2 separate regions of the Homo sapiens genome follow, and region 2 is linked to region 1. Evidence: fine-mapped expression QTL. Tissue or cell type: whole blood. Region 1 holds a variant in brackets; the other region holds the start of a gene. All regions are shown on one strand. Distances are between the middles of the regions.

What was found. PIP is the estimated chance that this variant, and not a neighbour inherited with it, causes the effect.
Region 2: it holds the start of IL34, and the variant in region 1 is fine-mapped to the expression of IL34 in whole blood (TOPMed, PIP above 0.99).

The regions. Positions count from the first base shown.
Region 1 is chr16:70,609,675-70,617,833 of GRCh38, forward strand. It overlaps a transcript of IL34 not described here. Among named protein-coding and RNA genes, the nearest start is that of IL34, 33 kb to the right of the region's middle. The variant A/G (reference allele first, on the strand shown) is at 4,964.
Region 2 is chr16:70,642,306-70,650,454 of GRCh38, forward strand. It overlaps IL34 (interleukin 34), which reads left to right and starts at 4,254. Exons shown (of 6, transcript NM_001393494.1): 1 at 4,254-4,670. The coding sequence starts at 4,643. RefSeq lists an enhancer at 7,486-7,986.

The DNA.
Region 1 (8,159 bases):
AGGTGTATGGCTGCTCTGAGGGGTAGGGATTTATCCTGCCTTGGTTTCAATTTGCAGAGGCCTGTTCCTGAGTGAGTGATATTACCCATGAGGCCAGTGCTTTCAGCAACCCCATGAGGCTGGCATGGTCACTGTGCCTCTTGCAGGTGCCAGTGGGGAGAGAGAAACTCAGATCTATAGCTAGAATTGGAACCCAGATGCCTCTGGATGTTTTGAGAGGTTTGCACCATTTAAAATGTGAATGTCAGGCTGGACGTGGTGGCTCATGCCTGTAATCCCAGCACTTTGGGAGGCCAAGGCAGGTGGATCACCTGAGGTCTGGAGTTTGAGACCAGCCTGGCCAACACGGCGAAACCGTCTCTACTAAAAATACAAAAATTAGCCAGGTGTGGTGGCGGGCGCCTGTAATCCCAGCCACTCTGGAGGCTGAGGCAGGAGAATCACTTGAACCTGGGAGGTGGAGGTTGCAGTGAGCCAAGATTGCGCCACTCCACTCCAGCCTGGGCGAAAGAGCGAGACTCTATCTCAGAAAAAAAAAAAAAAAAGTGAACGTTTTTCCAAGGTAGGAGCTGAGAGAGGGATCTGGGAGAGGAGGGAGGAATCAAAGGGCCAAGAAAACTCTTGGTGGATTCTCTCCTTCATCCCCATCCTAGTCTTGTGCCTGTTTTCCTCCAGCGTCTGGGAGTGCCGAGTGTTCAGTTGACCCAGTTCTCCTTCTCTGCTGGAATTTTGGCATCTGGCCCATGTGTCCAGTTCATTCACTCAGCTATGATTTGCCAGAAGTTATAGAGTTTCCTATGTGTCAAGCAGGTGCCAGGCCCTGAGGACACAATGATGACACCAGAACCAGGCTCTGTCCCCAGACCCTGTGGTCATTCCTGTGGGGAGAACGACACACAACACACAACTGAATGCAGTTAGGATAATGTCGAGTGGCCAGTGCTGTGTGGAAAGTGCCGCAGAGGGAGTGACAGGGGTGGCCTGGTGGCCAGAGAAGGCATCTCTACGGAGGTGATGTTTGAGCTGACAAGAAGAAACCAGCTGGGGAGAAATCTCTTGTGGAATATTCCAGGAAGAGATAAGGCAAAGTCCTCAGGGAGTAGCCGTCGGTGCGGGACAGTGGGTGAAGCTAGGGTGAGGAGGAAGGAGGGGCCCCCTCAAGCCTGCCGGGAAGCCACGGAGAGCAGTTAGGGTTGATTCTGAGGGCAGATTCCAAGATTCTTCTGGAAATGAAAAAACTGCTTGCGTTCTTTCCCCCCCTTCCATCCTTTGTGATTTTGGGGGCTTCTTCTTTCTTTCTTCTTTTTGTTGTTGTTTGAGACAGGGTCTTGCTCTGTGGCCCAGGCCGGAGCACAGTGGCCTGGCACAATCTCAGCTCACTGCAACCTCCATGTCCCTGGTTCAGGCAGTCCTCCCGCCTCAGCCTCCTGAGTAGCCGAGACTACAGGTGCGCACCACCACGCCTGTCTAATTTTTCTGTTTTTAGTAGAGATGGGTTTCTCCATGTTGCCCAGGCTGGTCTCGAACTCCTGTGCTCAGGGGCTTTGTATTTTGAAACACATGTGAGAGGCTCTTGGAACTGGAAGGAAGGGTTGGTGCCCCCAGATTGCCTGAACTCGCTCTTGTATCCACTTCCTAGTTGCTGTGAAGGGGGAGGGGCTGCCAGGTACGGCAGATTTGTGTCCTTCTCCCCGCCACCTTGCTGGAGATACCTGGGAGTTTATACCATTCTACACCTGCAGGGGGGCCACTGACTGAATTAGGGGTGCAAAAGCCTGACCTCTTTGCCTCAAATAGAACAACACTGTGGTGCTATTTAAAAACAGCCTTCGGGCTGGGTGCAGTGGCTCACACCTGTAATCCCAGCTCTTTGGGAGGCTGAGGCAGGTGGATCGCTTGAGCTCAGGGGTTTGAGACTAGCCTGGGGCAACATGGTAAGACCCCATATCTACACAAAATTTAAAAAAGTTACCAGCCTGACCAACATGGTGAAACCCCGTTTCTACTAAAAATACAAAAATTAGCTGGGCATGGTGGCAGGCACCTGTAATCCCAGCTACTCCGGAGGCTGAGACAGGAGAATCGCTGGAACCCAAGAGGCAGAGGTTGCAGTGAGCCGAGATCACACCACTGCACTGCAGCCTGGGTGACAGAGCAAGACTCTGTCTTAAATAAATAAATAAATAAATAAATAGCTGGATGTGGTGACAAACACCTGTGGTCCCAGCTCTTCGGGAGGAGCAGGAGGATTGCTTGAGATTGGAGGATTGCCTGAGCCCAGGAGGTCAAGGATGCAGTGAGCCATGATTGCACCTCTGCACTCCAGCCTGGGCAATACAGTGAGACCCTGTGTAAAAATAAAAGATAGCCTTCTGTCTTGAGGTTCCCTCCCTTCATTAATCATGTGAAGCCCAAAGCCTGTCTCAGGCTCTGCTTCCAGGAGAGCCAGCCTCCAACAGGCCGATAGGGGCTGTGTGTTCTGTAGTCTAGAAATCGGGGTTCTGGGATCATGGAACCAGCTGACCCCTGGGGGCTTTTCCTTCCAGCTTTAAGAGTCTCTAAAGCTGTGTGATTTCCTCAAGTCACATAGCAAGTTATTGGCAGAGCCAGGCCCACAAACTACTCACAGCCTGAAAGCACTGGGGGCTGGGGGCTGGGGGCTAGGGGGATCTGCTGGTGAATGGTGAGTATGGTGCAGAGGCCAAGGCCCAAGCTGGAATACGGTGCAGAGGCCAAGGCCCAAGCTGTGGTTCATCCAAGGCTGTGCTCCCAGATGAAGCTCTGGATCTCAGGTAAGGCCCACTCTGCCGTAATTACTCCAGAGACTTTAGTTTCCTGAATTCTGCTCCCTTTACCTCTGTATTAGAATGATTCACACTAAAGTGTGAAAGATTGTCAGCTCAGAACCCTCCCAGAAGCAATGCATCCTGAAAAGAAAGTGCTTGTTAACCCACATCAATCTCTAATTGAAGGGACTTTTTGACAGGTATAAAGTGAGTTGGAAAAACGCACACAGTGTAAATCTGGAGCCTTTGGGGCTCAGGAGGGATTCCTCAGCTTCCCCAAGATCAGCTTCCCCACCCCCATTTCTGCTTCTCCCAATTAGAACACATGTTTTTTGTTTGTTTTGAGACAGAGTCTCACTCTATTGCCCAGGGTGGAGTCCAGTGGTACAATCTCAACTCACTGCAACCTCTGCCTCCCCGGTTAAAGCGATTCTCCTGCCTCAGCCTCCCAAGTAGCTGGGATCACCACGCCCAGCTAATTTTTATATGTTTAGTAGAGGCGGGGCTTCACTGTGTTGGCCAGGCTGGTCTCGAACTCCTGACCTCAAATGATCTGCCTGCCTTGGCCTCCCAAAGTGCTGGGATTACAGGCCTGAGCCACTGTGCCCGGCCTCAGACCACATCTGTTGAGAAATGCATGTCGTCTTCTTCAGGTTCCCACAGCAGGGCCGGTCGAAGGGGTGTCACTGGAAGTGAAGGTGACGCAACTGAAAAAATAATTTTGTGAGAAGTGTATTTTTGCAGAGGCTGGTGGTTTGAACTAATCTCCCTGGTAAGTGGTTTATTTCTCCGGAGAGTGAAGGACTGTGCATGATTTAGTAAATTTCCATGCCATGTTCTGAAGGGCTGGCATCCCTTCTTGGCTCAGGCAGGCTTGTAGCGTAGACTGGGGACATGGGGTTGGAGCGGGGCGGTTTCCTGAGGCATGGCGGCCACACTGGATGGGGCCTCACCTGGTCTCCACCCTTACTGTACAAGTGCCCTTGGCAAGTCACTTACCTTTTCCAAGGCGCAGTTTCCTCATCTGTGAAACAACTGGAGTTGGCTATTCCGGAACCTTGGTACTCAAAGTGTGGTCTGCAGACCAGTGGTATCTGCAGCACCTGGGAGCTTGTCAGAAATGCAGAGTCCAGCCAGGAGTGGTGGCTCACACCTGTAATCCCAACACTTTGGGAGGCTGCGGTGGGTGGATCACCAGAGGTCAGGAGCTCAAAACCAGCCTGGCCAGCACAGTGAAACCCTATCTCTACTAAAAATACAAAAATTAGCCAGGCATGGTGGCGTGCACCTGTAGTCCCAGCTACTTGGGAAGCTGAGGCAGGAGGATTGCTTGATCCTGGGAGGTGGAGGTTGCAGTGAGCTGAGGTTGCGCCACTGTACTCCAGCCTGGGTGACAGAGTGAGACTCTGTCTCAGGAAAAAAAAAAAGAAAGAAATGCAGAGTCCAGCCAGGCACGGTGGCTCACCCCTGTAATCCCAGTGCTCTGGGAGGCTGAGGCAGGAGGATTGCTTGAGGCCAGGAGTTTGAGACCAGCCTGGGCAATACAACAAGGCTTTGTCTCTTAAAAAAAAAAATTATCCAGGCGTGGTGGTGCACGCCTGTAGCCCCAGCTACTCAGGAGGCTGAGGTGGGAGGACTGCTTGAACCCAGGAGTCTGAGGCTGTTGTGAGCTGTGATCATGCCCCTGCACTCCAGCCTGGGCAATGGAGCAAAACCCTGTCTCAAAAAAAAAAAAAAAGAAGTGCAGTATCCCAGGCCCTACCCCAGACTTTCTGAGTGAGTCTATATTTTAACAAGATTCCAGGTAATGTGTCTGTATGGCACAGTTTGAGGAACCCTTCTTTGGAGCAGACTCCTCAAATGTGGTCCTTGCACCACCCCATCAGTGTCATCCGAGAGACAAAGCATGCTGGAAATGCAAGTTCATGGGCCCCTGACCTACTGAATTGTATGTCTGAGGGAGGGGCCTGGAGCCTGTGTTTTTTAACAGCCTCTCCAGGTGGTTCTTAAGCCCGCTGAGGTTTGAGAAGCATGGAAGCTCAGATTCAACAGTGATGGGAGCCGAGGTTTAGCTGTGGTGCAGCTGCTGAACACGGAACCTGTTTTGTTTTTGTGCTGCTTTCAGAAATGTGCACACACTTGCCTTTCACAGCAATTTCATGATGTTGTTTGTCCTT[A/G]TCTTTGCTCTGCCTAAGAGATAACTGGGTTTTAAGGGAAGTTATGTGAATTGCCTACACTCTTTGTGTCTCACAGTGTCTTGCAATAGCAATATTCACATAAAGCATTTCTGGCAAGTGTCAGTGAGCTGTTACAGGTGATAAAACTTCTTGTAAATATTTGTTCCTTGATTATAAATGACAGAGGCTCTGTTGGAACAGGAGCTGGGGTAGATCTTGTAGGTCTTGCCCAAGGCTCAGGAGCTGATGAACTGCAACTCCTCTGTTTTACTGCTTAGTATTTTGATTAGAGAATAAACTCATACGGTTTCAACATCATGTAAAATAGAACTATAGCAAAGAGTTTTCTTCCTGCTCCTGTCCCATAACCGGCCTCACCGGGTAACTGTTTATATTTTATTGGGTCTAATCTAATTAGAGCTGATCCTCAGGAAAACAGAAACTCCTGATCTATGGCTCCCCTGTTACCCCCCAAATCTCTGGACTTACGGTGTATGCATTTTTGCAACTTATTTTACTACCCTGACAAAAAGTCCATCGAATTCTAGACTTATTTGGGTTAACAAACATCTTCTTTTAAAGATACACTGGCCAGGTGTGGTGGCTCACGCCTGTAATCCCAGCACTTTGGGAGGCCGAGGTGGGTGGATCAAGAGGTCAAGAGATCGAAACCATTCTGGCTAACATGGTGAAACCCCGTCTCTACTAAAAGTACAAAAATTAGCTGGGCGTGGTGGTGCTCACCTGTAGTCCCAGCTACTCAGGAGGTTGAGGCAGGAGAATTGCTTGAACCTGGGAGGTGGAGGTTGCAGTAAGCCGAGATTGCGCCACTGCACTCCAGCCTGGCAACAGAGCAAGACTCCGTCTCAAAATAAATAAATAAATAAATAAATAAAATAAAGATACACTGTCTCTGAAAGGTGTCTGAGTTGCCAATCTTTCACGCTTTAGTGTGAATTATTCTAATATGTTCACTTTATGCAAATGCAAGCATATACAAATATATAGATATAGATATAGGTAGATGAAAGTGCCAGGCGCAGTGGCACGTGCCTGTAATCTCAGCACTTTGGGAGTCTGAGGTGGGGCAAATCACTTGAGCTTAGGAGTTTGAAACCAGCCTGGGCAACACAGTGAAATCCCATCTCTACCAAAAATACAAAAAATTAGCTGAGTGTGGTGGTGCACACCCGTGGTCTCAGCTACTCGGAAGACTGAGGTGGGAGGATCTCTTGAGCCCAGGCAGTGGAGGTTGTGGCAAGCTGAGATGGCACCACTGCACTCCAGCGTGGGTGACAGATTGAGATCCTGTCTCAATAAAAAAATCCGTCCCCCCTCAAACTCCTTCCACAGATATTTATAGATAAAAGCTTTGCCACCTCTGCTGAACACAGCTTCCAACATAGAAAACACACCATTCAGTGTCTTGCTTGTTTTACTGAATCTATCATGCTATACTACTGTGTGGTGAACATGCAGGTTATACCATCTGCTATCACAGACGCTGATGAGATGAAAAATCTCATACACGTGGCCTGTTGCAGGTGCATACTGTATATGCAGGATAAATTCCCAGAAACGGCATTGCTAAGTATCTGCATTTGTGATTTGAGAGATATTGCCAATTTCCACTCCATAAGGTTAATACCAATTTGCACTTCCATCAGCTTTGGATGAAAAATTAGTTTGCCCGCATCATTGCCAACACATTAAATTGGATTTATATCATTGGATTTTTACCAATCTGATAGGTGAAAAACAGTGACTCAATGTAGTCTTAATTTAAATTTGTTATGAAAAAATTTTAATTTATAATGTGTTTAAGGCCTATGTATTTTTCTATGACCGTCTTACTCATATTGTTTTGCTTATTTTATTTATTTATTTTTTTGTGAGCAACATGTCTGTTTATTTCACCTGGGTGCAGGCGGGCTGAGTCCGAAAAGAGAGTCAGCAAAGCGTGCTGGATTATCATTAGTTCTTATAGGTTTTGGGATAGGCGGTGAAGTTAAGAGCAATGTTTTGCGGGCAGGGGTGGATCTCACACAGTACATTCTCAAGGGTGGGGAGAATTACAAACAACCTGCTTAAGGGTGGGGGAGATTACAAAGTACATTGATCAGTTAGGTGGGGCAGGAACAAATCACAATGGTGGAATGTCATCAGTTAAGGCTATTTTTACTTCTTTTGTGGATCTTCAGTTACTTCAGGCCATCTGGATGTATACGTGCAAGTCACAGGGGATGCGATGGCTTGGCTTGGGCTCAGAGGCCTGACATTCCTGCCGCCTTATATTAATAAGAAAAATCAAAATAGTGTTGAAGTCCTGGGGCGGCGAAAATTTTTGGGGGGTGGTATGGAGAGAGAGTGGGCGATGTTTCTCAGGGTTGCTTCAAGCAGGATTAGGGGTGGCGTGGGAACCTAGAGTGGGAGAGATTAAGCTGAAGGAAGATTTTGTGGTAAGGGGTGATATTGTGGGGTTGTTAGAAGAAACATTTGTTGTGTAGAATTATTGGTGATGGCCTGGATATGATTTTGTATGAATTGAAAAACTAAATGGAATAAGAGAAGGAGAAAAACCGGTATAAAAGGTCTAAGAATTGGGAAGACCTAGGACATCTGATTAGAGAGTGCCTAAGGAGATTCAGTATAGTCCTGCCAGCAAAGATTATTTATTTACTTCAAGAGTTAAGAGTGGCAGTTTGGGGATAGCACGAGGAGATATCAGCTGTGATGGCTTGGAGAAACTGTGTAAACCGGCAGTGTAAACAAGAGCAGGGCATGTATGAGTAGTTGAGAACGGAGAATAGGAGTATGACTAGACAGAAGATAGTAGGGATGACAAGTTTTTTTGGGGCACAGTCTAAGTTGGTCTGGTGTCTGGAATGAGACTGGGGCCTAATAAAAAGGAGCGTCTATACAGGAGCTTAAATGGGCTGTACCCCCTGTAGCATTCCGAAGACAGGCCTGAATTCTGAGAAGGGAAAGTGGTAAAAGTATTGTCCAGTCCTTTTTAAGTTGGTGGCTGAGCTTGGTGAGGTGTGTTTTTAAAAGACCTTTAGTCCATTCTACTTTTCTTGAAGACGGAGGACCGTAAGGGATATAAAGGTTTCACTGAATACTAAGAGCCTGAAAAACTGCTTGGCTGATTTGACTAATAAAGGCTCGTCTGTTATCAGACTGTATAGAGGTGGGA
Region 2 (8,149 bases), 33 kb after region 1:
TTTTTTTTTTGAGACGGAGTCTCACTCTGTTACCCAGGCTGGAGTGCAGTGGCATGATCTCGGCTCACTGCAAACTTTGCCCTCTGAGTTCAAGCGATTCTCCTGCCTCAGCCTCCTGAGTAGCTGGGATTACAGGCACCTGCCACTGCGCCCGCCTAATTTTTGTATTTTTAGTGGAGACGGTGTTTCACCATGTTGGTCAGGCTTGTCTTGAACTCCTTACCTTGTGATCCTCCCGCCTTGGGCTCCCAAAGTGCTGGGATTACAGGCGTGAGCCACTGAGCCCGGCCTGATTTCTTTTCTTATAAAGGCATTATCCCACCATAAGGACCCCATCCTTGTGACCTCATCCAAACCTAATTATCTCCCAAGGCCTCATCTCCAGGAACCACCACATTAGGGGTTACAACTTCAACACATGTATTTTGGAGAGACACAAACATTCAGTTCATAACATGCTACAAAATGAATGAACCCTGAAAACATGCTAAGTGAAAGAAGCCAGACATGAAAGGTCCCGTATTGCATAATCAATCCCATTTATATGAAATGTCCAGAATAGGCAAATCCATAGAGACAGAAAGAATATTAGTGGCTGCCAGGGGCTGGGAGGAAGAGGGAATAGGGGGTGACTGCTAATGAGTTCAGAGTTTATTTTGGGGGTGATGAAAATGTTCTGTAATTAAATAATGGTGACTGTTGCACAACTTAGTACACTAAAAACCCACAAAGTTGTACACTTTATTATTTATTTTTATTTATTTTTATTTATTTTTGAGACGGATCTCACTCTGTCACCCAGGCTGGAGTGCAGTGGGACTACCTCGGCTCACTGCAACCTCTGCCTCCCGGGTTCAAGTGATTCTCCTGCCTCAGCCTCCTGAGTAGCTGGGATTACAGGTGCGCACCACCGTGCCTGGCTAATCTTTTGTATGTTTAGTAGAGATAGGGTTTTGCCATATTGGCCAGGCTGGTCTCGAATCCCTGACCTCAGGTGATCCACCTGCCTTGGCCTCCCAAACTGCAGGGATGACAGGAGTGAGCCACTGCACCTGGCTGTTGCACACTTTATTTATTTATTTTGAGACAGGGTCTTGCTTTGTCACCCATGCTGGAGTGCAGTGGCGTGATCATGGTTCACTGCAGCCTTGACCTCCCTGGCTCAAGTGATCCTCCCATCTCAGCCTCCCAAGTAGCTGGGACCACAGGCCCGTGCCACTACACCCACCTAATTAAAAAAATTTTTGTTGGTAGATACGGGTTCTCACTATGTTGCCCGGGCTGGTCTCAAAGCCCTGGGCTGAAGCGATCCCCCGGCCTTGGCCTCCCAAGGTGCTGGGATTACAAGTGTGAGCCATCACACGCAGCCTGTACACTTTAAAATGGTAAATTTTATGGCATGCAAATTATATATTGATTTTTAAAAAGAAAAAAGACTTAAGATGCACATCAGAGATTTAAAAAATAACCAGGGAAAATTGAACGTGGATTCTATATGAAATCATATTAAAGAGTTATTAATTTGAGGGTTGTGTGATGACAATATTGTGATTATATATTTTAAAAATCCCTACATGCTGGTGAAATGGCATGTTTGAGATTTGCTTTAAAATATTCCTGGAAAAAAAAATTGGGGGATGAGTGAAGCTGGAATGACAGAAGAGTGATCATTTTTTTCTTTTGTTTTGAGACAGAATCTCGCTCTGTTGCCCCGACTGGAGGGCAGTGGAGCAATCTTGGCTCACTGCAACCTCCGCCTCCTGGGTTCCAGTGATTCTGCTGCCTCAGCCTCCTGAGTAGCTGGGATTACAGGCATGCACCACCACACCTGGCTAATTTTTGTATTTTTAGTAGAGACAGGGTTTCACCATGTTGGCCAGGCTGGTCTCAAAGTCCTGACCTTTTATGGACAACTCTGTGGAAATAACTTTTTTGTTTTTCTATTGGTATTTGAAGTTGTTTTTTCCCCTTCTCCTTGGAGTTTATTCTGCCTCAACTGATTCACCCGCCTCGGCCTCCCAAAGTGCTGGGATTACAGGTGTGAGACACTGCACCCAGCCAGATTGACAATTTTTGAATCTGAGTAACTGCTATATGGGGGTCTGTTATACTATTCTACCTTGTTTCAGTTTGTTTAGACAACTTCCACTATAAAGGAATGAATTTTTTGGGTAGATGGAAATGTTTTGTATCTTGATTATTATAGTAATTACACAGCTCTATAAATGTGCTAAAAACTTTTAGAAATGTATACTGAAAAGGGTAAAATGTAGTATATGTAAATTAGCCCTCAATAAACCTGAAAAAAATCCCCAAACTAATGACAACTAAATGTTCTAGATACGTTAGTGTTTGTAGTGATGCTGTAACAGCAGGGGAATTGCCAGGGTGAGGAGGAGGAGGAGGGGGAGGAGGAGGGGGAGGGGGAAGAGGAAGAGGAGGAGGGAGGAGGGAGGAAAAGGAGGAGGGAGGAGGGAGGAAAAGGAGGAGGGAGGAGGAATGAAAAGGAGGAAGGGAGGAGGAAGGAGGAAGAGGAAGGAGGGAAGAGGAGGAAGAGGAGGAAGTAGGAAGAGGAAGGAGGTGGAAGAGGAAGGAGGAAGAGGAGGGAGGAGAAGGAGGAGGAAGGAGGAAGAGGAGGAAGGAGGAAGAGGAGGAGGAAGGAGGAAGAGAAAGGGAGTAGGAGGAAGGAGGAAGAAGAGGAAGAGGAGGAAGGAGGAGAAGGAAAAAGGAAGGAGGACGAGGAAGGAGGAAGAGAAGGAAGGAGAAAGGAAGAGGGAAGAGTAGGAAGGAGGAGGGGGAAAGAGGAGGAAGAAGAGGGAGGAAGGAGGAAGACGAGGAAGGAGGAGGAGGAAGAGAAGGAGGAAGAGGAAGGAGGAAAAGGAGGAAGGACAAGGAAAAGAGGAGCAGCAGCAGGCAGCGACTGGGGCTGAGATTCAGGGTGACTGCATAAGGGATTAACTTGAACAACCCGTGTTCTCTCTATAAGGCCCTGCCTGCCTGCTGGGCACCTCTTAGGGTAAGGGCCAGCATTCTTTGGTGACACCATGGATCACACAATGAAGAAGATGCCCAAGTCATACCTGCTCTCCCCCGATGGTGTCACTCTGTAGCCATTTTCCCCCACCAGAGGGGAGACAGGGAGGAGGCGAGGGGATGGAAGAGAACTAAATCAGAGACGGAATTCCAGCCTGATCTGCAGAGCAGACACAATGGTCCAGACCTTGCAGAGTCCAGAGGGGCAGATGGGAGGACCACGCACACACGCTGAGCCCTGTGTGGTTGTCGAATTTTGGGAGCAGCCACCAGCCCACAGGGTTTGAATTCCTGTCACACTTCTTACAAGCCGTATGACCTTGGACAAGTGTCTTAACCTTTCTGGGCCTCAGTTTCCTCATTGATAAACTGAGATTTTGCACTTCCATGAGATTGTTGTGAGAGATTCAGTGAATGTAAAGACCTTAGTCCTGGCCGGGTGCGGTGGCTCACGCCTGTAATCCCAGCACTTTGGGAGGCCAAGACAGCAGATCACTTGAGTCCAGGAGTTTGAGACTAGCCTGGCCAACATGGTGAAACCCCATCTCTACTAAAAATACAAAAATTAGCCAGGCATGGTAGTGCACATCTGTAATCCCAGCTACTTGGGAGGCTGAAGCAGGAGAATTGCTTGAACCCTGGAGGTGGAGGCTGCAGTGAGCCAAAATCACGCCACTGCACTACAGCCTGGATGACAGAGTCTGAGACTCCGTCTCAAAAAAATTTTTTTTTTCTTAATTTTTTTTTTATTAATAGAACTGAGGTCTTACTATGCTGACCAGGCTGGTCTCGAACTCCTGGGCTCACGCAATCCTCCCACCTTGGCCTCCCAAAGTGCTGGGATTACAAGCATGAGCCATTGCGTCCGGCTTGTTTTCGGAGTGGGAGCTCGTCTGCTTTTTTAACCTGTCCTTTAGCCTGAGTCATTCATGGACTCTACCATGGCTCTCGATGTGTGAACTCAAACCACCTGTTCATTCCTTGGTCCTGCTTTTGTTCAGGCCCCAGGCTGCCAGCTGGTGTCATCATAACTCACTCATGGGCCAGGGCCGTTCGGACATCCTGAAGTCATTTCTCACGTGAGCCGTGTCCAGCTGCCAGGGCCGGGTGGTCCTGTGCAGGCCGTGGGTGCGGTGTGCGCTGTGGCTGATGGCTGAGTGGCAGCGCTGCTCTTACATAATCAGTTTCTCTCCTCCTTTCTCTTCCTAGAGCCAGATTTCACACTGAGCAGCTGCAGTCGGAGAAATCAGAGAAAGCGTCACCCAGCCCCAGATTCCGAGGGGCCTGCCAGGGACTCTCTCCTCCTGCTCCTTGGAAAGGAAGACCCCGAAAGACCCCCAAGCCACCGGCTCAGACCTGCTTCTGGGCTGCCATGGGACTTGCGGCCACCGCCCCCCGGCTGTCCTCCACGCTGCCGGGCAGATAAGGGCAGCTGCTGCCCTTGGGGCACCTGCTCACTCCCGCAGCCCAGCCACTCCTCCAGGGCCAGCCCTTCCCTGACTGAGTGACCACCTCTGCTGCCCCGAGGCCATGTAGGCCGTGCTTAGGCCTCTGTGGACACACTGCTGGGGACGGCGCCTGAGCTCTCAGGGGGACGAGGAACACCACCATGCCCCGGGGCTTCACCTGGCTGCGCTGTGAGTACTGGGGGGTCCCTAGGGACCTGCATTGGGAGGCCTTGGCCTAGATCCAGGATCTGCCGTAACCATAGCAACCAGGGCATTCTTGCTGGTGAGAAGTTGCGATGCTTCCCAGCCGGACTGCAGACACCCTCTGAGATTCCCACGGCCGCCGTCTGCCCTGTCTGCCGCTCACTTCGGGCTCCGACGGGCAAGCTGGGTGGGCAGTTCTGGCTGGGTGGGCATGGTCCTCAGGGTGGTCTTAGGTCGGGGCAGGCACTGGGGGTAGGTGGCAGCATCTCACCTTTCCAGGCTTGTGGGTGTTGGGGAGCCCCGGGCGGGCAGCAGCGGCCCAGTCCTGGGTATGGCCGGTGGAGGGGGGCAGGGGCTGGTGAAAGTGTCTAGGGACCCAAGACCCACGGCAGAAGAGCAGCCAGATGCCTGGAGAAGGCAGCCTGTTCCCCTCCAACCCTCCCTCCATAACAGAACAGAATTAAAAAGCAGAAAGATAACACTGTTGGTAAAAAGAAAAATAAGTTGAAATGAGGACAGAAAGGAAAAAAAGGATCTGGAAGCCTCTTATGCCTGCTGGCTGGGAGGCCAGACCAAGATCCCCTCAGTCTCCAAGATCCAGTTCAATTGACTCAAATTCAACACATTTTTCCGGTGCCTCCCACGTGCCCACTGCAGAGTCACTGCCATGACAACAAGGACCTTGCTGTCTCGTGCCTCTGTCTCCAACGCCTGGCACAGGGTTGAGTGCTCAGGAACTGTTGGAGGTTTGGGGTATGAGCCTGCGAGGGATTGAAAGAAGAGTTGGGTCCACCCTGGCCCTTGTGGAAATATACAACAAAGGGTTGGGACATTAAGGATGGGTGGAAGGACCCAGCTGGACCCAATGTTCTGGAAACCCCTAGGTCATGAGAAGCAGGGGTGCAGCATGGGGGAGGGGCTACTGGAAATGGTCTAGAAGGTGGGGTGGTGGTCACACAGGTAGACCTGGGGTCATGAGGCCCATGTTCCAGGAAGAGGGGCCAGTGTGAGCAAAGGTTTGGCGGTGGGATGGTGAGGCCAGGCTGGGAGCTGGTTTGGACCCGGCTGGCTGAGGCCTTGAGAGCCAAGCAAAGTGTGCCTCCCTCCCCATAGCAGGCAGCCCTGGAGGATTTGAGAGCCCGGCGGGGGTGGAATCGTGATTGGGAGTTCCTCTGCTCTTGAAGATCAGTCTGGTGGTGTTTGTAGGAGTTACTGCTGTCACCGTCTGTGCAGGAGGGAATGAGGGTCATTCTGGAGGTGGAGGTGCGAATGAAAGGCAAGGGATGCTGGGCTGGTGGCTCACGCCCGTGATCCCAGCACTGTGGGAGGCCAAGGCAGGAGGACGGCTTGAGGCCAGGAGTTTGAAACCAGGCTGGGCAGCATAGCGAGACTCCATCTCTAAAAAAAGGAAAATTAGCCAGGTGTGGTGGCATACATCTGTAATCCCAGCTACTCAGGAGGCTGAGGTGGGAGGATCACTTGAGCCCAGGAGGTTGAGGCTGCAGTAGCAAGGATCGCATCACTGCACTGCAGCCTGGGCAACAGGGTGAGACCCTGTCTTTAAAAAAAAAAAAAAAAAAAAAAAGGAGAAAAGAAAAAGAGAGAAAGAAAAGCAAGGGAGAGGGGAAAAAGCTCCAGGAGGGGTGGGTCTTAGGACCAGGCAAAGACTGGCTGGGGGATGAGGGAGAGGGAGAGCAGCAGATTGAGGTGGGGGCTGGTGCCCAGGGGCTGGGGTGCTGAGGAAGTTGGGCTGCCATAACCAATTAGAAAGCTTCGGGTGGCTTAGAGCAACAGGAATGTGTCGTCTCACAGTTCTGGAGACCGGAAGTGTGAGATCAGGGTGCCTGCAGGGCTGCGTTCCCTCTAAAGGTGCCGAGAAGGAGCCTCCCTTGCCTCTTCCAGCTCCTGGTGGCTCCTGGCTTCCTTGGCTTGTGGCCTAGTCACTCAGATCTCCCTTTGTCTTTGCGTGGCCTTTCCCTTTGTGTGTCTCTATGTCCTCTCCTCTTCTTCCTAGGACACTAGTCACTGGATTTAGGGAACTGCCTAAATCCAGGATGGCCTAATCTTGACATCCTTCATTTAATAATGCCTGTAAGTGGCACAGGACAGGCGAGCCCCCAAGGGGGCTTAGCCTGCGAGGGTTCTTGGCTTTCCCTAGGAGAGAATTCAAGGCAAGCTGGTGGTAGAAGAAAACAGCTTTACTGAAGAGATGTTATAGCTCTGTGCCAGCTCCTGCAGAGCAGGGCTGTGCCAGAGGAAGCGTACTGAGGAGCAGCTCGGGGCCTTTTGCAGTCATATTTATACCCACCTTTAATTGCATGCAGATTAAGGGGCAGTTTATGCAGACATTTCTAGGGAAGGGGTAGTAACTTTTGGGACATTGGGTCATTGCTATGGAAAGCGGTGGTAACTCCCAGGCGTTGCCATGGCAATGGTAAACTGACATGGCACACTGCTGAGCATGTCTTTTGGAATGCTGCTTCTGCCCCGTCCACCCCTGTTTTCACTAGTCCTCAGTTTGGTCCAGTGTCAGGGCTCTGCCTCTGGAGTCGGTCCTACCTCCTACTTCACAAAGACCCCATTTCCAAACAAGGTCACACTCGGGTTCGGGTGAATGTGGATTTGGAGGAGATGCTATTTAACCCACTGCACAGGTTCAGATTTGGTCCCCGGGGCTGGGGGTGACAAGCCTCACTTGTCACTGCACATAGGGTCAACCCAGGGCCAGGGAACCAGGAAGGGAGTACCGTACTCACACAGATCTTTCTTAAGCCTCCTCTCTGTCTTGCAGGTTGTTTTATTATTTTATTTTTATTTTTATTTTTTGAGACGGAGTCTCACTCTGTCACCCAGGCTGGAGTGCTGCGGCACGATCTCAGCTCACTGCATCCTCTGCCTCTTGGGTTCAGATGATTCTTGTGTCTCAGCCTCCCGAGTAGCTGGGACTACAGGCACCTGCCACTGCGCCTGGCTAATTTTTGTATTTTTAGTAGCGATGGGGTTTCACCATGTTGGCCAGACTGGTCTTGAACTCCTGACCTCAGGTGATCCGCCCACCTCGGCCTTCCAAAGTGCTGGGATTACAGGTGTGAGCCTCCGTGCCCAGCCTGTGTTGTGGGTTCTTACCTCTGGGCTAAGACAAGGGCAGGGTGGGTCTCCTGACCAAGGTCAGGGGTGGCACTGGCTGTGGGGTTCCTGGTGTGCAGAGCATGTGGGGGACAGTGGCCTTGAGGTTGGGGCTGTGCTGTCCCTGCCTGGTCCCTGTTTGTTAACCTGTTTCTCTGGGTGGGTGGAGGCAGCAAAAAAAGAAACTTGCCCTTAGCAATGATGTTTGGGCTGCACTCAGAGGAAGGCTGCCCAGTTGGGGGAGAGGCAGATCATCTGTGGACAGGGTTTCCAGGGCAGCTGTGTGCCCACCGTGTCAGGCTGGGAGGCTCAGTGTCACTCCAAGGCACAGTCCCTGC